Linked DNA regions of Homo sapiens. The protein of the gene in region 4 purifies or fractionates together with the protein of the main gene of each other region. This does not show direct contact. Each region holds a gene or a part of one and is shown on either strand. Other genes may lie near its edges.

Evidence for each region.
Region 1: the proteins of MARF1 (region 4) and NISCH purify together in Homo sapiens (affinity purification with mass spectrometry, with the first as the bait; one large-scale study listed by BioGRID). This does not show direct contact.
Region 2: the proteins of MARF1 (region 4) and ARID3B purify together in Homo sapiens (affinity purification with mass spectrometry, with the first as the bait; one large-scale study listed by BioGRID). This does not show direct contact.
Region 3: the proteins of MARF1 (region 4) and POM121 purify together in Homo sapiens (affinity purification with mass spectrometry, with the first as the bait; one large-scale study listed by BioGRID). This does not show direct contact.

The regions. Positions count from the first base shown.
Region 1 is NC_000003.12:52,458,585-52,463,813, reverse strand, and holds part of NISCH (nischarin), read right to left. Parts: intron 5,153-5,229; coding exon 4,970-5,152; intron 1-4,969. UniProt on the Homo sapiens protein: Acts either as the functional imidazoline-1 receptor (I1R) candidate or as a membrane-associated mediator of the I1R signaling.
Region 2 is NC_000015.10:74,588,624-74,593,852, reverse strand, and holds part of ARID3B (AT-rich interactive domain-containing protein 3B), read right to left. Parts: exon of another isoform or gene 4,034-5,229; coding exon 3,850-4,033; exon of another isoform or gene 3,792-3,849; intron 3,398-3,791; exon of another isoform or gene 2,747-3,397; intron 2,703-2,746; coding exon 2,419-2,702; intron 2,294-2,418; coding exon 2,039-2,293; intron 719-2,038; coding exon of another isoform or gene 716-718; coding exon 617-715; intron 1-616. UniProt on the Homo sapiens protein: Transcription factor which may be involved in neuroblastoma growth and malignant transformation. Favors nuclear targeting of ARID3A.
Region 3 is NC_000007.14:72,930,674-72,935,902, forward strand, and holds part of POM121 (nuclear envelope pore membrane protein POM 121), read left to right. Parts: intron 1-5,229. UniProt on the Homo sapiens protein: Essential component of the nuclear pore complex (NPC). The repeat-containing domain may be involved in anchoring components of the pore complex to the pore membrane. When overexpressed in cells induces the formation of cytoplasmic annulate lamellae (AL).
Region 4 is NC_000016.10:15,635,719-15,640,947, forward strand, and holds part of MARF1 (meiosis regulator and mRNA stability factor 1), read right to left. Parts: intron 3,574-5,229; 5' UTR 3,516-3,573; coding exon 3,372-3,515; intron 625-3,371; coding exon 1-624.

The DNA.
Region 1 (5,229 bases), on a different chromosome or scaffold from region 4:
AGACAGAGGTTGCAGTGAGCCGGGATCACATGCCTGCACCCCAGCCTGTGCGACAGAGCGAGACTCTGTCTCAGAAAAAAAAAAAAAAAAAAAAAAAAAGAGGTTCAATAACATTAGTCATTAGGGAAATGTAAATTAAAACCACAATGAGATACCACTTCACACCCACCAGAACAACTAAGATTTAAAAAAAAATGGACAAGAAGTGTTAAGCAAGAATGTGGGGAAATTAGAACCTATACACTGCCGATGGAAACGTCAAATGGTGCAACAACTGTGGAGAACAATTTGTTAGTTTCTCAAAAAGTCAAACATAGTTACCATATAACTCAGGTTCCACTTTTGGCTATATATCCAACAAAAATGAAAACATAAGTTCACACAAAAATTAACATACAAATGCTCATAGCAGCATCATTTGCAATGGCCAAAAATGGAAACAAACCTAACATCCATCAACTGCTAATAAATAAACATAATGTGGCATATCCAAATAATACACTATTACTCCGTCATAAAAGGACCAATGGATTCATGCTACAATATGAACGGACCTTGAAAAGATAAGGCTAAATGAAAGAAGCCAGTCACAAAAGGCCACACACTGTATGATTCTATTTATATGAAATGTCCAGAACAGGCAAATCCATAAGGACAGAAAGTAGATTAGTGACTGCCAGGGGCTGGGGGACAGAGGGATGGGAAGCTCCTGCTAACAGGTACAGGTTCCTTTTTGGGCTGATGAAATGTTCTGGAATTAGATAGTGGTGATGGTCGCTCAACTTTGTGAATATACTAAAAACTACTGAATTGTACACATTAAAAAGTTAATTTTATGGTATGTAAATTATATCTCAATTTTTAAAAATCCACACCATGGCCAGGCGTGGTGGCTCATGCCTGTAATCCCAGCACTTTGGGAGGCTGAGGCAGGTGGATCACGAGGTCAAGCGTTTGAGACCAGCCTCACCAACATAGTGAAACCCCGTCTCTACTAAAAATACAAAAAATTAGCTGGGTGTGGTGGCGGGCCATCTGTAATCCCAGCTACTCGGGAGGCTGAGGCAGGAGAATCACTTGAACCTGGGAGGTGGAGGTTGCAGTGAGCCGAGATCGTACCACTGCACTCCAGCCTGGCCAGTAAGAACGAAACTCCGTCTCAAAAAATAAAAATAAAAAAATTCACACCATAGCCAAATAGGGTTCCCTGGGTCCACCCTATCCAATGTCAGCAACACAAGAGGCAGAACACATGTGGAACAATTTCAGAGAGGATACAGACAGTATAAAAGTTAAGAGAAACATTCCCCAGAGAGCTCCCAGCCTGGAGAAAAGGCTGACAAATCTTTAGGCCCCAAATGAAGATCTAATCCAGTGGTTTTCAAGTGGGGGGCAATTTTGCCCCCCAGTGGGACATTTGGCAATGTCTGGAGACATCTTTAGTTGCCATAGCTGGGTGGGGAAGTGCTACTGGCATCCAGTGGGTAGAAGCCAGGGTGCTGCTAAACAATGCATGGGACAGCTCCTTACAGAAACAAATTATCCAGTCCAAAATGTCAACAGTGCTATGGCTGATCAACTGTGGGTTTAATCCAACGATGGGTTCAATTGCTTTTTTAAATCCTAGGATTTATATAACCTAGGGACCTGTTTGATAATACTAATTCCAAATATGTCAAAACTTCTACAAGTAGCGGAGCCTGCCTCAAACCAGAACCAGATGTAGCCGGCCCCAGGCACATCTCAGGCAAACCAGTTTCAAAAGAGCAGTCCAGGCCTTTCCACCCTCAGAGCCAGGCACACGTGAGGCAGCCAGCGAGACCTCCTCTCCTCAAAGGCATAGGTCTCAAGCAAGGAATTAATACCGTCAAAGGACTGCATGTCAGGTTTCATCCCTAAATGGCTAACCAAAGCTTTCTTAAAATACAATATTTCTTTTTTTTTTTTTTTTGTGACGGAGTCTTGCTCTGTCGCCCAGGCTAGAGTGCAGTGACACGATCTTGGCTCACTGCAAGCTCTGCCTCCCGGGTTCACGCCATTCTCCTGCCTCAGCCTCCCGAGTAGCTAGGACTACAGGAGCCCACCACCATGCCTGGCTAATTTTTTGTATTTTTAGTAGAGACGGGGTTTCACCGTGTTAGCCAGGATGGTCTCGATCTCCTGACCTCGTGATCCACCCGCCTCGGCCTCCCAAAGTGCTGGGATTACAGGCGTGAGCCACTGCGCCCGGCCTTTAAAGTACATTATTTCTTAAAATACTAACCAGTAAAGTTTATCTGAAAGACTTGCATAAGGAATGCAAATTTTTTCTCACATAAGAAAGTATAAAAATATGTTTACGAAAGGGTATGTTGCTAACCCTATACTTGCTGGTATATGCTAAATAAAATCCAAAGCATATACACAGGTCCCATCTGTGAATGCTATCTACTTTTCCACCTGTCCCTGCCAAGCTCAGTGGCCCCAGGTTAGCACTCGCCACCAAATTTCTAGGCTCTTTAGTGATCCAAGAAAGGTTCAACTGTCTTACTCTGAAAAGAGTTTAAGGAAGTTGTTTCTTCTGTTTTTGTTTTTTTCTTTGAGACAGAGTCTCTGTGGCCCATGCTGAAGTGCAGTGGCATAACCTCGGCTCACTGCAACCTCCCCTTCCCAGGTTCAAGCGACTCTCATGCCTCTCTCCTGAGTAGCTGGGACTACAGGCATGAGTCACCACGCGCAGCTAATTTTTGTATTTTTAGTAGCGACAGGGTTTCGCTATGTTGGCCAGGCTGGTCTCGAACTCCTGGCCTCAAGTGATCTGCCTGTCTGGGCCTTCCCAAAGTGCTGGGATTACAGGCGTGAGCCACTGCACCTGGCCAAGAAAGTTGTATTTTAAATACAGCTGGGCTTTTAGGACCATAATCCACAGGTTACTTCAAGGTGAGCCTGAAAAGGGAGTGGATTCTTCCCTGTCTTCATCATATAAAAGGAAAACAAGTAAATATAAATTATCTGAAAATCTATCACTCAGAGAAAACTACTCTTAGCATTTTGGTATACGTAAACCTTCTAGAATTTTCCTAGACAAATATGTCCATATCAACTTGTTTTTTGTAAAAATGAGACCATAGTCAGCCAGGTGCAGTGGCTCACACCTACAGTCTAAGCACTTTGAGAGGCAGAGGTGGGAGGATGGCTTGAGTTCGAGTTTGAGGCCAACCTGAGCAATACTGCAAGACCCCATCTCTACAAAAAAATTTTTAAAATTAGCTGGGTGTGGTGGCATGCACCTGTAGTTCCAGCTACTTGGGAAGTTGAGGCAGGAAGATCCCTTGAGCCCAGGAGTTTGAGGTTGCAGTGACCCATGATCAGGCCACTGTCCTCCAGCCTGAGCAATGGAGTGAGACCCTGTCTCAAAAAAAAAAAAAAAAAAATAGTACAGCCATACAGTTGGATACTGCTTAAGAAAGTTGCATTTTTTTTGAGACAGTGTCTGCTGGGAAGACTGGTGTGCTGCTGGGATAATGATGGTGGAGCTGCAGATTTCTTTTTTGTTTTATTTTCCCAAAGAGCTGGGATCACAGGCATGAGCCACTGTGCTCAGCCTGGCTGTACCCTTTGATTTTTTTTTTTTTTTTTTTTTTTTTTGAGATGAAGTCTTACTCTCACTCTGTTGCCCAGGCTGGAGTGCAGTGACATGATCTCGACTTACTGCAACCTCTGCTTCTTGGGTTCAAGCGATTCTCCTGCCTCAGCCTCCCAAATAGCTGGGATTACAGGCATCTGCCACCATACCCAGCTAATTTTTGTATTCTTAGTAGAGACAGGGTTTCACCATGTTAGCCAGGATGGTCTTGAACTCCTGACCTCAAGTGATCTGCCCACCTCAGCCTCTCAAAGTGCTGGGATTACAGGCATGAGCCACTGCACCTGGCCTGATTTTTTTTTTTTAACCTCTTCTACTAGACTTTAGGGTTGTCCTTACTATTTTGTTACAATCCTGGAATGACTACCTTTGTTCATATATCCTTTTTGCGGCTGCCTGATTTTTCCTTAGAAGAAATTCTCATAAATAGAACTGCTATTTAATATTGTGGTTTTGGCCAGGTGCGGTGGCACACGCCTGTAATCCCAGCACTTTGGGAGGCTGAGGCAGGCAGATCACTTGAGGTCAGGAGTTCCAGACCAGTCTGGCCAACATGGTGAAACCCCATCTCTACTAAAAATACAAAAATTAGCTGGGTGTGGTGGTGCAAGTCTGTAGTCCCAGCTACTCGGGAGGCTGAGGCAGGAGAATTGCTTGAACCCAAGAGGCGGAGGTTGTAGTGAGCCGAGATCGCACCACTGCACTCCAGCCTAGGTGACAGAGCAAGACTCCGTCTCAAAAGCACAAATATTGTGGTTTCACACTGCCTAAGTGCCCTTCTTAAAGTCTGACAACGCATTCTGTCACCGGCAACCTATGAAAGTTGTTCCTCTTTCAAGGACGGAGTACAGAGCTGTTCTATGACACACTCTCCCATCACAGGAAGGTGTCCACCCTCAACCTTAGCACCCTGGCAGCGCGGACCCTGATGACACGCCCCAAGATGGTGATATTCCACCATCACAGACTAATCCCTTAATTAGTTTTGGGCTATGCACCAACAACTCAACAATAGTCTATCCCAGGTGTCAGCTATTTCTAATCCAGCCTCATCCATCTGGATGGAAACCTAGCTTAAACACCCACAGGCCATTTTTGCTAAACAAAATGCCTTGTGGTGGAGGAAAGCATCTCTGTGGCCACATTTAGTCTAATTTACGGCAAATCTGTCAACTAACATGCTTCTGGCCACAATGCATTCCTAACCAGGGTGACGTTCCTCCATCTTCTAACCTAGGGTCAAACCCCAGCCCACCTCAAAGCTGAGGTCTCCCCTGGTTTGCTGCCTCAAGTTTGGCAGTTGTGGGTTTGCAGGCACAGGTGAAAACCCGATGAGGAACTTACATAGAAGTGAAAATGCAAGAAGTGGGCCAGTACTCTGGGGGTCACGCCAGGGAAGGCAGCCAGGAGCTTCTGGAGGTAGACCTCCAGATCCTTCTCCCTCTTCTCCACCAAGCTTCTTGAGTTTTTCCCAATTATCTTTTTGGGCGGAAGCAGATTTTTATCAATCTTTCTCTCTGCAACGAGCTGTAAAAAAACATAAGCACATCAACCACAGACTAAGAGGCTCTGTGCCTATGTAAGACCAAGGCAAGAAGCTTGAG
Region 2 (5,229 bases), on a different chromosome or scaffold from region 4:
CTCAGGCTGGTCTCAAACTCCTGGGCTCAAGTGGTCCTCTTGCCTCAGCCTCCCAAAGTGCAAGGATTACAGGCATCAGCCACCGTGCCCAGTCATGAATACTAAGTTAAACCCTTAGAAAGACTCTGTAAAGGTGCGAAATCAACCAACCAACAAAACACTGTTGCCAAATTAGGTTTAGGAAAAGATAACTGTAAAAGACTGGGGGGCAGGGAGCTTAACAATGTAAGCTGATTCTCCTATACTGGGGTTCCTTTGCCTGTGTCTCAGTCTGCAAAAGGAAGAGAAGAGCTGAATTACAGTCAGAGAAAGGCTGTGCATGAGAAGACCTGGGGATTGTGGGACACTGACTGACTTCTTCAATTAACGAGCCAACCACTGGTCTAAAAGGGTTAGGTGAAGGGTTTCTGCCAAAGTGGGAGGGACCTATCATCCTGTTAACAATCCACAGTCTACTAGTCCAGAGGACCACTTGACCTTTGCAACTCTGAGACCAGGAAAAAGGAAGCCACTGTGGGAGGTGTTCAGACAGAGGGTAAGAGGCAGGGCCAGCCGCAGAGCTGCCCTGTGGCTAGCTGCGGCCACGTGGGCCTCCCCCAGAGCTCCAGGGCCTCACCTGCATAGGTGGTGCCATCGATGTCCACAGACATGTTAATGCTCCCAATGCTACTCGTGGTCAGGTTCAGTGCTGCAGCCGAGGCCTCTGCTCTGTCTTCTGCTGGGGACAGGGAGACAGTGGGCCTGGTCAAGCCTTCCACAGCACTCCTGTTGTCCTCTCTGATGCTGCCTGGCCACCCCTGGTCAAAGCCTCACGCTGTTAAAAGGCATCTATGTAACCTTCTCCTGAGTGTAGGGTATGGCAGGAGATCCCAGGCTCGCCAATCTCCTGTTGCTGGCTTTTTCCACTGACCCAGTTCATCCCCTCAACTACCTCTGCTCCCAGAGAAAAGGAATCACAGTAGGCAAGGAGGCCGGCTCCGGCCCCACCACTCTGCACTGGCACTTTCCAAGTGACGGGCAAACCCTGAACTACACTATACACCAGGCCCAGGAAATCAGAGATCAATGAGACCCAGCCCCAACTTTGAGGACCCACCTGCCCTTTCTTTCCTTTGACTCTGAGTCCCTCAGAGAGAGGAGTCTACGCCCTCAGCCCCTCCCCTCCATGACCACCCAGGCAGCTGGCGTTTGTGGAAGCCTGCAAGTGCTGGCACACACGGCCTTTGGCTGGCTCACCCCAGACTCAGAATTCTTCCCGGTGAGCTGTCTTTTCTAACAGCCCTTTGCTTTGTGCAGGAGCAGGGTACCTGGCCCTGGATGAGCTGTTACCTCCCAGTTTCCTTCTGGTCCCCAAGGGCAATGGGGTAGGAGGGGCAGCCTGGGAATATGTATAGCTCCCTTCACACCTGGCTCCTTCCCACACATCTCATTCATGTTTGCTTTGAGATAGCATCAGGACCAGAATGGGAAAGAATGTGTGTGAATGGGAAAAGGGGCGTGTGGCTTGAGGAAGAGAATGTGGGGCACCAGAACAATGTGAAGAGGAAGGGAAAGGATGTCAATTATGCTGCCAAACTTGTGTTTCCTCCTTCTGTCTATATTCCTGAGTCCCACTGTCCAGCCCGGGGCAACTTGGCCCCTCGCTGAGCCTCAGGAACATGGGGTGTCTTCCTCCCAGACCTGCAGACGGTGCCCTGCTCTTGCCTACATCCAGTGAGGTGCTGGGGTAATGGCTGGTGGGGAAACGCAGCAGCTCTCTGAAGGCCTCTGGCTCCTCCTCTGTGAATAACTGCTTTTCCCTCTTACTAGAGAACAGGGCACTGCCTGAGGCAACATGTGGTCCCCTCTACCAAACAACCTCAGCTTGGTGAACTAAGATCTCAGTGCCTCTCTTCTAGGGGCCTGGAAGGCAGAACCTGGAGGGGCCTCTTCCAGGTCAGGAGTATGTGCCTCACCACCCCTGCCCCACCAGTCCCAGGAGGCGTGAATGGGCTTGGGGTTTCCAGGAAGGGAAGGCCCGGCCCTGAGCCTGGCTCACCCCTGCCGTTGATCCTGATCTTCATGGGGAGCTGCCGTGCCATGCTGAAAAAGTTGCGCTGGAAGGCCTGCTGCACCAGGCGCTGCTCCTCCTCAGACAGCCTCGATGCCTTCTTCTCAGCAGGCTCCCCTGACTCCAGCCGCTCCCGCAGCTGCTCCAGTGCGGCGGTCCGAGTACCAGCCTGCTGGCTTGCCAAGGTCACGGGCACAGCCAGACGATTTGGCACAGGCACTGTTGTCACTGGGGCTCCATCACCTGCAAAGGAACTGGAGCTGGACCAATCCACAATTGACCCTCTTGCCCCAAAACCCCAGTCTTGAACACAGGGAACTGGCATCCCTTCCTCCCTTTCTTCCTTCTCCCCCAGGAGCCCTGCTGACCTTTCCTGAGAGTGGTTGCTGGGGATATCCGAGGGCTACTGGTATTGGTACCACTGCTGGAGCCAAGCCCAAGGATGGGAAAGCGGATCTTGGGTGGGGAGAGAAGGGCAGGGGCCCCGGCAGCGGCAGCAGCAGTAGCCGCAGCAGGTGAGTAGCCAAAGAGGGAGGAGCTGTAGCTGGGCCGCCGGCCCTCCCTGCGGTTGCCATCAATTGCTGCCTGGAGCTCGGCTGGGGAACTCAAGGCTTTCTTCTCACACTCATAGGCATACAGATACTTCATGTACCTGGAGGAAAGGAAGCAAGCAGGGAGAATAATCCAAAACAGCACCAGAGACCACCCAGTTGAGGTTGGTGGGTCTCTGGAAGCAGTCTCTGTTGGGCAGGACTCTAGGGCAAAGGATTGCAACCTTGGTATACTTGGCAGAAAAGTCTGGGATGGCCGGACACTCTGCCCCAGCCTCCTCTGACTGCCACTCAATCCTAAATAGGCTCTACTTTGAAGCACCATTCATTAGGGGAAATAAATAACATCTTAGTTGGCGTTTTCACATTTGTTTTGAAGCCCTGGGAAAAATTAGGCCCATGTTTTACAAGGGCTTTCTGACTTCTTGATCTTATAACCATTCAGAGCTGGGCTAGTCAGATAGGAGCAATTCTTCCCATTGTGCATGGGACCTAGACACTGTCATTCTTTGTGTCTTAGGTCCCAAGAAGCAGTTCTCTACCCAAGAACCTTGCCATTCTGGTTGTAGCTACAACATGCTACCTAACTGATGTCAGTTGTTCATTGCATACTCTTCACAGAACAACTTCCAGAGTGTTCCAGAAGAAAAGATTCCTCTCTGGCCCTCATTCTTCAGTGCTACTATTGGTTTCACCGCTTCCATCACCCATGTAATTAACTCAAATGCTGACAAAACCAGGTCACCAATCCAAGGGGGCCTTCCTGCCTGCCTTTCTCTGGGTCCTCTGCCGCTGGGTAAGCTGAATATCAGGTAAGAGGGGCCACTTGGGGTGGAGATGCTGTTTGGAAGACAATGTCCTGGAAGGGGCACAGGTCTTAGAGACAGAAGCCCAGGTCTGAATCTCAGCTCTACCACTTACTGGCTGGTATATGACCTTAGCCAAATTATTTAACCATGGAGACTTCATTTTTGTAATGTGGGAAATGGGGGCATACCTACTTTACAGGGTTGACTGTGAGGTTTAAATGAAATAGTAAAGTACCAGCACAGAGTAGACACTTGGTAAATGGTGGTTCTCATCACTACTTGGTTTAGTGAGGGATTCATCTCAGAAAGCTCCCCACTGTTTCGGGAATCCACTCATCTTGCTAACCATACAAAGGAATTTCCTTCCTTCCTCTCCTCTAGGTTACAACATCCCCTTTCTCCAGCCTCAGCTTCCTTCTCCCAGGCCCTGGCCACTCACTGCGTCCTGAGGGTGAAGGCGGCGCTGGTGATGGATGTGGGCAGGTTTAGGCCTTTGGTGATCTCCCTCCAGATCTTCTTGTTGATGATCTCCACCAGGCCTCCCTTCTCGGTCACCAGCTTATACAGCATGTACAGGTCCAGGATCTGTTTGGCCATGATGGGGATTCGGTTGATGGGGGTCCCTGTGGTTGTCCAACGAGAGAAAGAGACAGCGGGATCATCATCAGGCTGAGAAGAAAGATTCCGTGTATGCCCACCTTTAGCCGAGCTGGAAACAATGCTCATCAACCTGGAAGTGTAATTTAACTCAAACTCCCCAAGCCTGAACACTCAGACTAGCTGTCAGGACAGGTCCAACGCACAGGCTGTGTGGGCCTTTGGCAAAGCACTTAGCCTCTCTGGTTCTGTTTTGCCGTCTGTAAATAAGAGGGCCAGACTAGATGATTTCAAAGGTGCTTGTTTTTTAGTTCGTGTGTGTGTGTTTTTGTTTTTGTTTTGCTGGCAGTATGATTCCAGACTATTCCTAGTGATCTGGCGACTTATCTCTGCAGCTTTCAGACTCCATTCAGCGGCAGCTTCCTCTGGGATGCCTTTCTCTGACTTCCTAGAAGGGGAGCCCTGCCTAGTCACCCTCCTGGCAGCGCTCAGTGCTGCTTATAAGAGTGTGCTCGCTGGCTGGGTGCGGTGGCTCACGCCTGTAATCCTAGCACTTTGGGAGGCCGAAGCGGGCAGATCACGAGGTCAGGAGATCGAGACCATCCTGGCTAACATGGCGAAACCCCGTCTCTACTAAAAATACAAAAAAAATTAGCCTGGCATGGTGGCAGGCGCCTGTAGTCCCAGCTACTCGGAAGGCTGAGACAGGAGAATGGCATGAACCCGGGAGGCGGAGCTTGCAGTGAGCCGAGATCACACCACTGCACTCCAGCCTGGGCGACAGTGAGACTGTCTTAAAAAAAAAAAAAAAAAAAAAAAAAAAAGAGTGTGCTTGTTTGCACATGCCTGCTTTCTCCTCTCCTGCTTGATGGAGAAATGGTTTATTTCTCTCTCGTGTGCCCCGCCATGTCAAAGGAGCTGCTGGACACACAGGTCTCCAGAGGAATGAAAAGCCACTCAATTCTCTCCCCACACCAATCACTCCACCCACTCCCTGGCCTCTGAAAGGGGGAGGGTCAGAGCAGCTTCCACCCAATGGCCCCGAGGGGAAGTGAGAGGAGCCAGGGACTTGATTAGGAAACCTGGCACCGAGGAGGAAGGGCTACTAATGAGCACCAGGGGATATGGTGAGGGCGGGGCAAGTCCTTTCACAGCCGGCTGGGATGCTCATCAGGAGGCGTGATGGATGACTGTCATTTGGCAGCCTCGGGATTAATGATCT
Region 3 (5,229 bases), on a different chromosome or scaffold from region 4:
TGCTGCTGGACAGACTTAGATTCAAATCTTGGCTCTGAGGCTGGGCGGGATGGCTCATGCCTGTAATCCCATCACTTTGGGAGGTCAAGGTGGGAGAACCTCTTGAGTCCAGGAGTTCAAGACTAGCCTGTGCAACAGAGCAAGACTGTGTCTCAAAGAAAAGGAAAAAAATGCTTGGCTCTGACATCTAGTAGCTATAAGGTCTTGGGCAGACAATCACATAACATCTCTTTTTCTTATCTCTGAAGTGCTGTTGCAGTGATTGAGGGTAATATTTAAAAAGCACCTATTACAGTGGCTGTCAGTAAGTGGGTACCCAGTATACAGCAGCCAGACAAAAAGATGTAAAGCATGTATGGAGAAATGTTTTTGAGAGGAGGAAGATTTTGAGACGAGTTCATCAGCCCAGAAGGCTCTGACAGTCATATAAATGAACATTAATGACCGTAATATCATTATCCCTCTTAATAATTTAAGAGGGATAATTAATATTATTTAATATCTAGTTATTATTTTTGATATGCAAACTTTTCCAGCTTTGGACTATGGGTTCCAAACTGGCTCCTGTATCCTTTATTTTGATCCCAGCAGTCTTCGACAGATAGCTTCATTGCTTTTTGCCCACCTTCCCAAAGTCCATTTTTAGCCTATACCGAAGTTGGGTGTTTCTTCAGAAAGCTTTGGTTTCTTCCAGTTAGAACTGTAGAGACTACAGTCTAAGTTTTAGGAGAGATAAGATAGACAGATCCTCTAGAAAGGGGAATATAAATAATTCATAATATTCCAAATTCAAATTTATGATAGTAGGATTTTTTATGTAATTTATTTGATTTTATATTTTTATGTATTACACCAAAAATGTCGGTTTATAATTACTTTGATCCTAGTAACACGCAATTTCTTTTTTTTTTTTTTTGCCGGAGTCTTACTCTTGTCGCCCAGGCTGGAGCACAGTGGTGCGACCTTGACTCACTGCAATCTCCGCTTCCTGAGTTCAAGCGATTCTCCTGCCTCAGCCTCCCAAGTAGTTGAGACTATAGGTGCCCGCCACCATGCCCAGCTAATTTTTGTATTTTTAGTAGAGACGAGATTTCACCATGTTGGCCAGGCTGGCATCGAACTCGTGACCTCAGGTGATCCACCCACCTTGGCCTCCCAAAGTGCTGGGATTACAGGCATGAGCCACCACGCCTGGCCCATGCAATTTCAAAATAGCGGTATCAGTGTCATTGTTAACACTGTCATTATTAAGACGGCTGAAGTCAGTTTAAGAATTGTGATTCATTTGTCTTTATATCCCTGTGTGAATGCTACGGACATGTAATCAATATATCGTGTTTTAAAGTAATGTTAATTGTCCTTTGGGTACACCAACTTTATATACAGTGAGGTTCGTTTGTTCAGTATGTTTGAAAGTTACAGGGATTTCTGTGTTTTCCTTTTTGAAATAGTTCTGTTTTAAATTATGTAAAATCTTTGAAACAATAAGTTGTTTCAAAAAAAATACACTAAAACAAGATACACTCAAAAATTCAGTTTCCATCCCTTTCCACTCTACATTTTTCCTTCCTCTCCATTTTTATTTTTTGATTATCCTTTATTGTTTTTTAAACGGTATGCATATCAGTGTATCTGAAAACCGCCACCTTCTAACATTTAAGGTAGTAGACAGTATATACAGATTTGAACCTTGCTTTTTCACATAATAGATAGTTGAGGTCATTCCATAGCAGTACACAGAAACTCATCTTTGGTCTTAAAACTGCATAGGTACTTTAGTCCTCTGTTGACAAATGTTGGGTTGTTTCAGTCTTCTGCTATCACAAATAATGCTGCAAAGAATACATTTGTTCATATGTCATTTCATCCTTGGCAATTTTGCCTCTGGAAAGTTCCTAGAAGTCAGATTCCCAGGTCAAAGGTTAAATGCGCATGTAATTTTGCTGGATATTGTTAAATCCCCCTACAGAGCATGCACCACTCAGCATTCCCCTCAGCGTTGTATGAGAGGGACCATTTCTCCATGGCCTCACCAGCAGATTTGGTTATTGTAGCTCTGGGCTTTTACCAATTTCACAGGTTAAAAATAGTATCTAAGACAGGCGTGGCAGCTCATGCCTGTAATCCCAGCACTTTGAGAGGCCGAGGAAGGCAGATCACTGGAGGTCAGGAGTTCGAGATCATCCTAGCCAACATGGTGAAATCCTGTCTCTACTAAAAACATAAAAATTAGCTGGGCATGGTGGCACATGCCTGTAATCCCAGCTACTCAGGAGGCTGAGGAAGGAGAATATCAGGAACCTGGGAGGCAGGGGTTGCAGTGAGCAGAGATAGCGCCACTCCACTCCAGCCTGGGCGACAGAGTGAGACTCTGTCTCAAAAAAAAAAAAAAAGCCAGCCGAGCTTGGTGGCTTACACCTGTAATCCCAGCACTTTGGGAGGCTGAGGCAGGTGGATCACCTGAAATCCGGAGTTTGAGACCAGCCTGGCCAACGTGGCAAAAACCGGTTGCTACTAAAAATACAAAAAATTTAGCCAGGCGTGGTCGTGTGTGCCTGTAATCCCAGTTACTTGGGAGGCTGAGGCAGGAGAACTGCTTGACCCTGAAAGGCAGAGGTCAAGTGAGCCGAGCTCACGCCACTGCCCTCCAGCCTGGACGACAGAGTGAGATTCTGTCTCAAAGAAAAAAAGGTATCTAATTTTTGTCTCTTATGAGTAGTTTGATCATCTGTTCATATGTTGAATGATTATTTTCAGTTCTGTTTCCATGAGTCTTAGTTCATATCCTTTACCCATTTTTCTGAAGGGCTACCAGCCAAATCTCATGTTCAAGAGTTTTTCCTATAGTAGAGAAACCTATTCCAAATGAAGCAAAGTTTTGAACGTAAAATAGAAACCATAGAAGTGCAGTGTTAGAAGAAACAGGCTCCTCACGCGTTGCTGGTGGGAGTGTCAGTTGGTACAGCTCTCTAGAGGGCTTTGTGACAGGAATTGTCCACATAAGAGATACATGCACCCTTTGATCAAGCAGCTTTACCTTTAGGAAGTTATCCTACACACATACTGGGAAATGGATACAAGGATTTAATGTAACATTGTTTTAATAATAGCAGCTTGGAAACAATGTACATGTTATCTTTTCAGGGAGCTGACTGAATAACTTACAGTATTGGTGTAAGTTGGAATATACTATGTAACTATGAAAAAGAATAAGGCAACTGAAGAAGTACTCATGAGAATGATCTCAAAAAGCAATTACATAAAAACAAGGCTCAGAACTGTATAGTATCCTCTATTATTCGGGCTTTTAAAAATCTTTTAATATGCATAAAATAATTCTTACAGGATATATTAAAAACTGGCAATCATTACTGAGATAAAAAGGAAATTTACTTTTTACTGTACAGTCTTTTTTTTTTTCTTTCTTTTGAGACAGAGTCTCGCACTGTCGCCCGGGCTGGAGTGCAGTGCTGTGACCTTGGCTCACTGCAACCTCCACCTCCTGGGTTCAAGCAATTCCCCAGTCTCAGCCTCCCAAGTAGCTGGGATTACAGGCACCCACCACCATGCCCGGCTAATTTTTGTATTTTTAGTAGAGATGGGTTTTCACCATGTTGGCTAGGATGGTCTCGAACTCGTGACCTCAGGTGATCCGTCCGCCTTGGCCTCCCGAAGTGCTGGGATTACAGGCGTGAGCCACCACACCTGGCCCCAAGTTGTTGTCTTTTTCTTAGAGATTTGAATACGCTCTTTATATGTTCTAGATACAAGCTGTCTGTCATGTATGTGTTGCAACAAAAAAGTGTCCTGCTCTTGCCATTCTACTTCCTTGTGGTTAGCATACTTTGTGTAGTATTCAGGAAATCTTTGCCTACCTAACCTAAGGTCATGATAATTTTCTTCTGTGCTACCTTCTAGAAGCTTTATTATTTTATTATTACTTTTATATGTAAATCCATAAACCACCTGAAATTAATTTTTGTATATGGTGTGAGGTTGGAATCAAAATTAGTTTTTTTTGTGTTTGGTGGTGTTGGTGGTTTTTGTTGTTGTTGTTGTTGTTTTTTACTGTAGAAATACCCATTTCTCTTAGCAACATTTATTGAAAGGACCATCCTTATTTCTCTGCAGCACCGTCTTTGTCTAATTTAAGTGTCTGTATATATGTGGGTCCATTTCTAGACTCTGTTTTGTTCCATTGGTCTATTTTTCTACCTACCCTTGTGCCAGTCTTTGTTTTACCCCTAGCCTTATACTTTAAGTCTTGATAGAGTCAGTCATCCCACTTTCTCATTTCTCTTCAGGACTGTCTTGTATCTTGGCCTTTTGCATTTTCATATAATTTTTAGATCAACTTGTCAATTTCCACAAAAAAAAAAAAAAGTTCTGAGATACTGATTGGGATTGCCTTTCATCTACTGATTACTTTGGATGGAATTAACATTGTTACAATATTGACCTTGTTTACTTCTAATCTATGAACATGGAATGTCGTTATTTATTTATTTAACTTTTGAGACAAGGGGTCTTGCTCTGTGGCCCAGGCTGGAGTGCAGTGACATGATCATAGCTCACTACTGCCTTGAACTCCCAGGCTCAAGCGATTCTCCTGCCTCAGCCTCTTGAGTAGCTGGGACCACAGGCATGCATCACCACACCTAGCTAATTTTTAAAAACTTATAATAGAGACACAGTCTCACTATGTTGCCTAGGCTGGTCTCAAACTCCTGAGCTCAAGCAATCTTCCCACCTTGGCCTCCCTGAGTGCTGGGATTGTAGGCGTGAGCCACCATGTCCTGCCTCCTTCATTTATTTACATCATCTCTATTTCTTCTCTGTAGAGGTTTTACTTCTTTTTTATTAGATTTACAATCTCGGCTCACTGCAGCCTCCACCTGCTGGGTTCAAGTGATTCTCCAGCCTCAGACTTCCGAGTAGCTGAGATTACAGGCACGTGCCACCACACCTGGCGAATTTTTGTAGTTTTAGTAGAGACAGGGTTTCACCTTGTTGGCCAGGCTGATCTCAAACTCCTGACCTCAGGTGATCCACCTGCCTCTGCCTCCCAAAGTGCTGAGATTACAGGCGTGAGCCACGGCGCCTGGCCCTAGGTATATGCTATTCTAAATAGTGCCTTCATATATGCTATTCTAAATAGTGCCTTCAAAATGTGATTGGCTGTGCTGGTGTGTAGAAATACAACTGATTTTGTATTCAGAAAGTTTGCTA
Region 4 (5,229 bases):
GTGCAAAGAGTTGGTGCACAAGTGAGGCGTTAGCTCCGACTGTGAAATGTGCTCTTCCAAATGCCCTGGAGCCCCGCTTGTGAAATCAGAACAGGGGAAATAGCCAGCGGAGGTGCAGCCCTGCAGACTCGGAAACTGATGCAGCTTGTGCACATTACCATGACATGACTGGAAGTGGAGTTTTCCACAACAGGGCAGGTGTTTGCAGGAAGACAGGTTACTCTCTAGACACATGCTGGGAAAGTCACTTGCAATGCCTGCCAAATTGTTCCTAGCTGAGGCATTCTGGAGTGAAGATGCAGACTGGAAAGCAAACCCTGACCCTACCTGACACGTGATTGTCCTGGTGCTTTGCGAGTCTAACAGTGCGCCCGGGTGAATCAAGCTACTGGTACCTCCGCTACCGCCACCACCACCACCAAAACGCATTGGCGAAGTGGAGGGTTCATTAGGGCAATGAGCACAGCAGCTTACTTTGGGGACAGAAGAAAGCTGTATTTTAGGCTGCTGAAGAGAACGAATATCAGGAAGTGGGACTGCTGGAAAAAGCTTAGAGCCAGCATGAAGGGGTGATGGTACATCCTTTAGTTCCACAGCAACTTTCTTGTTCTCCATGTACTCTTTCTGAGAAAAGAAAATCAGAACATAAATTAATTTTATGAGGTCCGTGGTTTTTTGGTTACTCATATCTTACTGCATGCACAAACAGAAATAGTGTTCAATTCTGTTACATCACTAAATCATAACTGAACAAAATGGAATCACAGCTAGTTAAAACCAGGAACATTCTTCAGAGAGGTCTGCAGGACATGAACACTGGAACACACAACTAAAATTAAGACTACATTCTTCCTGAATTGAAACAGACTGGGGTGGGAGGGCCTGTTTACATCTTTAGCAGCCACCATGCCTCAGTAACTTCCTTTTGGTAATTTCCCCTTGCCTCACAGAATCTTCTGAAGACAAAATAGGTGGTATGAAAACAACCCCTCACAAACAGCATTCAATAAAGATGGCTAACACACACAGTGGTTTGAGGACAATACTTAATAGTTCTGTGGTCAGGCCATAAGGGGTTTTAGTAAGATCCCCCAAAGGAAAAGAGTAAAGTTTCAAACACAGATGAGATCAGCCATCTACCCAGATGGCCCATCCGTGTTGCTGATGACATTTCATAAACCCTAAGATATCATGACCTAAAGCCATAATGACAATTATATTGCAGCCAGTGAAAAGATTTAGAGAATTAGAAAACTATCCAAGAAAAAGATCCAAGACAAATAGTTTGCCACATGACTCCAACACAGACACAGGAAGCCAGTATATTACAAAGGTTCTGAGCAGAGCATCAGTGGCAGAGACCTGGGTTAGAATCTGATACTCAATAGTTGTATGACCTTGGGTAAGTTACTTAACCTACACTTTGGTTTCCTCATCCATAAACTGGGAATACAATATACCTCCTAGAGTTGCTAGGAGGATAAAATAAGATAGAGCACATAGACCACCTGGCACAGTACCTAGCCACTGAAAGGGGACTGAATTCATCAGCCTTCACAGGCTGACTGCAAGAGACATTAAGATGAAGAGGGGGCCCTGCTACAGTGACTGAGACGTGCTCACCGTTCACAGCATATGAGGGTCCATCTGACGCCTAAAATTCCACTCCCTTTGCTGTGATTCTACACTCACCTGGGAGCATAGGCTCATCTGGAAGAAATGTGAATTTTCAGCTAAACTTTCCCTAAAAGGGAGATAACAGCAACGGGCTGACCAGCCAATGAACTGCCCTCTTGGTAATTATAGTTCAGACTGAAATTAACACACTGGTATTCTGATTTATACAGATCAGGCTCATACAGGCAGGCTTACTATGAGTTGATCCCCTGAACCTACTCCATTCTGCATGCCACTGACAAAATTGAGTTTCAAGATCTGTAAAGTTGACCGTGTAATTCTGAATTGTGTGACTCCATGAGGACCAGATCTACCACCCCATCCCAGGAAGCCTTGCTTTTGATGCCAACCCTCACTGTCAACTGTCTCTAAAATAAAACACTCCTAAAATGACCCAAATTACTTGATGTCTTGCAACAAAGACAACTATATAGTGAAAACCTAGAGAAAATAGAGAATTAAACTGGTTTTTAAAAAGTTATTAATACCCGGCCAGGCGCGGTGGCTCACGCCTGTAATCCTAGCACTTGGGAGGCCGAGGCGGGTGGATCACCTAAGGTCAGAAGTTCAAGACCAGCCTGGCCAACACGGTGAAACCCCATCTCTACTAAAATACAAAAATTAGCCAGGCATAATGGCGAGTGCCTGTAAACCCAGCTACTAGGGAGGCTGAGACGGGAGAATCCCTTGAACTAGGGACAGTGGTTGCAGTGAACCCGGATCGTGCCACTGCACTCCAGCCTAGGGGGCTGAGCCGAGACTCTGTCTCAAAAAATAAAATCAAATAAAAGTTGTTAATACCCTTATATAAAATTATATTACAGTCTCACTTGAATCCCACATACAATAGAAAATAAGAAATAGAAAGGTGGTAACATGAGTGCATGAAGTCAGGAAATGTCAAAATTGGCTGGACGCGGTGGCTCACGCCTGTAATCCCAGCACTTTGGGAGGCTGAGGCGGGAGGATCACTTGAGGTCAGGAGGTCAAGACCAGCCTGGCCAACATGGCGAAACCTCGTCTCCACTAAAAATACAAAAATTAGCCAGGCATGGCAGCACAGGCCTGTAATCCCAGCTACTGAGGAGGCTGAGGCAGGAGAACTGCTTAAACCTGGGAGGCAGAGGTTGCAATGAGCCGAGATCGCACCACTGCACTCCAGCCTGGGCCACAGAGCAAGACTGCACCTCAAAAAAAAAAAAGAAAATGTCAAAATCACAATGAGTAAGCAAGAAGTTAGAGACATAAATGTATACTGAGAAGTAAATATTCAAGAGAAATCTCGAAATAAAAAACAGGCAGTGGATAAGCTCTTCCCAACCCTTCCTAGATTATAGACTCAAAACTCAAGAGGGCTACAGTAAAATACAACATATTTTGTATTTTCCTCTGATTTTACTCCACAATGTGGATTTTTAATCTTTGTTACCTGTGACTTTAATGAGGAAGAAATCTTTCCCAAATTTTAACATTAAATATTCAAGGCATCTACTGTTACTCAAAGTGAAATAGAAGAGTTAAAAAATTGTGCTGTGCTCTCACATTATAATGTGGTATAAGAGGCAATACAGGCAAGATCTACAGAAAAATGTGGCACAGACTCTAGGATGAGAGACTGTATCCCAGACCAAATGGACCTCTCTCATCTATTTGGATGAGGAATCTGCTACATCCTTAGTCTTGCATATAGTTACCGTTTGGGGACTATGTGGCAGCGTCTGCTCAGGACGAGAAAAGCAATTAGAGAATTTCCAAAGCCATGGCTTAGCATCATTATCTTGTTGAAGCCATCCACGTGTTCTACTGCAGGAGTTCTCAGTTCCGTTTCCTTCCATCATACAGCCATGCAAAGTGATTCAACATCCTTTCATCTTTCTTTTCTTTCATTCTTCCACCCTGTTAAGAATGAGTAAGATTTCAGTGTTATTTCCTTGCATAAGTACAAATTTTACAACATACTAAAATGTGAAACCACAGCTATATTTACAGTCCTATGGCTCTCAACAATTCAAATCTTTGTTTCAAGAGGAAGTCTCGCTCTGTCGCCCAGGCTGGCATGCAGTGGTACGATCTCAGCTCACTGCAACCTCCGTCTCCCGGGTTCAAGCGATTTTTCTGCCTCAGCCTCCAGAGTAGCTGGGACTACAGGAGCCTGTCACTATGCCTGGCTAATTTTTATATTTTTAGTAGAGATGGGGTTTCACCAAGTTGGCCAGGCTGGTCTTGAACTCCTGACCTCAAGTGATCCACCCTCCTCGGCCTCCCAAAGTGCTGGGATTACAGGCATTAGCCACTGCGCCCGGCCAACAATTCAAATCTTAACAAACAAAATAATAATAATAAAATAAAGAAAGAAAAAAACACAAAATATCAGAGCATATTACGGGTTAATAAAATTTGGTAAACTTGGTTGACTGTTTATGCTTAAAATCTAACTGCAACAACCTGATTTCTTAAAAAATCTATAATCTGCCATTCTTCATGTTTCATAGCTCTTCAAATAAAAAATGAACTCTCCATGAGTCTTGTTTCCTTTCCACATGTAACCATGTTTGAGAGAGGTAGCCATATCTTGGAAACTTGCATATTCCAGAGTGAGACTTCACCTCCTCACTTGGCTGGAATCAATTTTTTCTACAGTTTTTCTGAATTCTTTTCGGCTCTCTCTCCCTAAAGATGCTGCTCAGGAAAGTCAAAAGTTAACAGAAGAGAGCATCTAATCTGAGTAAAAGAGCCACCACCACATCCTCATTGACAACTATATGTAAGATTTTAAAATTGACTTAAGAGCAACTTCTTGCACTGGTTTCTTGATCTGAGCATGAAAAGTCCAAACTAAGTGGCCTCTGTGGACTTTGAATTTGATTTGCTACAGAACAAATTGAACCAATTTCTTAGTTTACTAATGATGAAAGTGCAATCTGATATACCACCAAAAATCTAACTGATAGAAAAATCTCAAGTCGCAGATGTGTTATATCTACGCCAGAGCAACAACACTCTTACAGGTCTTAACAATAAATGCAAGCGAGGCACCGTGGCTCAGGCCTGCAATCCCAGCACTTTGGGAGGCCAAGGTGGGTGGATTGCTTGAGCCCAGGAGTTCCCAACCAGCCTGGGCAACATGGCAAAACCCCATGGCTACAAAAAATTAGCTGAGCGTGGTGGTGCATGCCTGTAGCCCCATCTACTCAGGAGGCTATGGTGGAAGAATCACCTAAGACTGCGTAGTCAAGGCTGCAGTGAGCTGTGATTGCACCACTGCACTGCAGCCTGGGCGACGGAGTGAGACCCTGTCTCAAAAACCAACAAACAAAATTACATGAAATTAAAATGTCAGTGTCCATAAATAAAGTTTAATTGGGACACAGACACACTCATTCACTTAAATACTGCCTATGACTGCTTTTGCATTCCAATTGCAGAGTTGCAAAGAGAGTCTCTGCAAAGAGACTGTATGGCCCACAAAGCCTATATTTACTACGTGGCTCTTTTGTCAGCCTGGGCAATATAGCAAGATCACAGCTCTAAAATAAAATAAAGTTCAAAAAA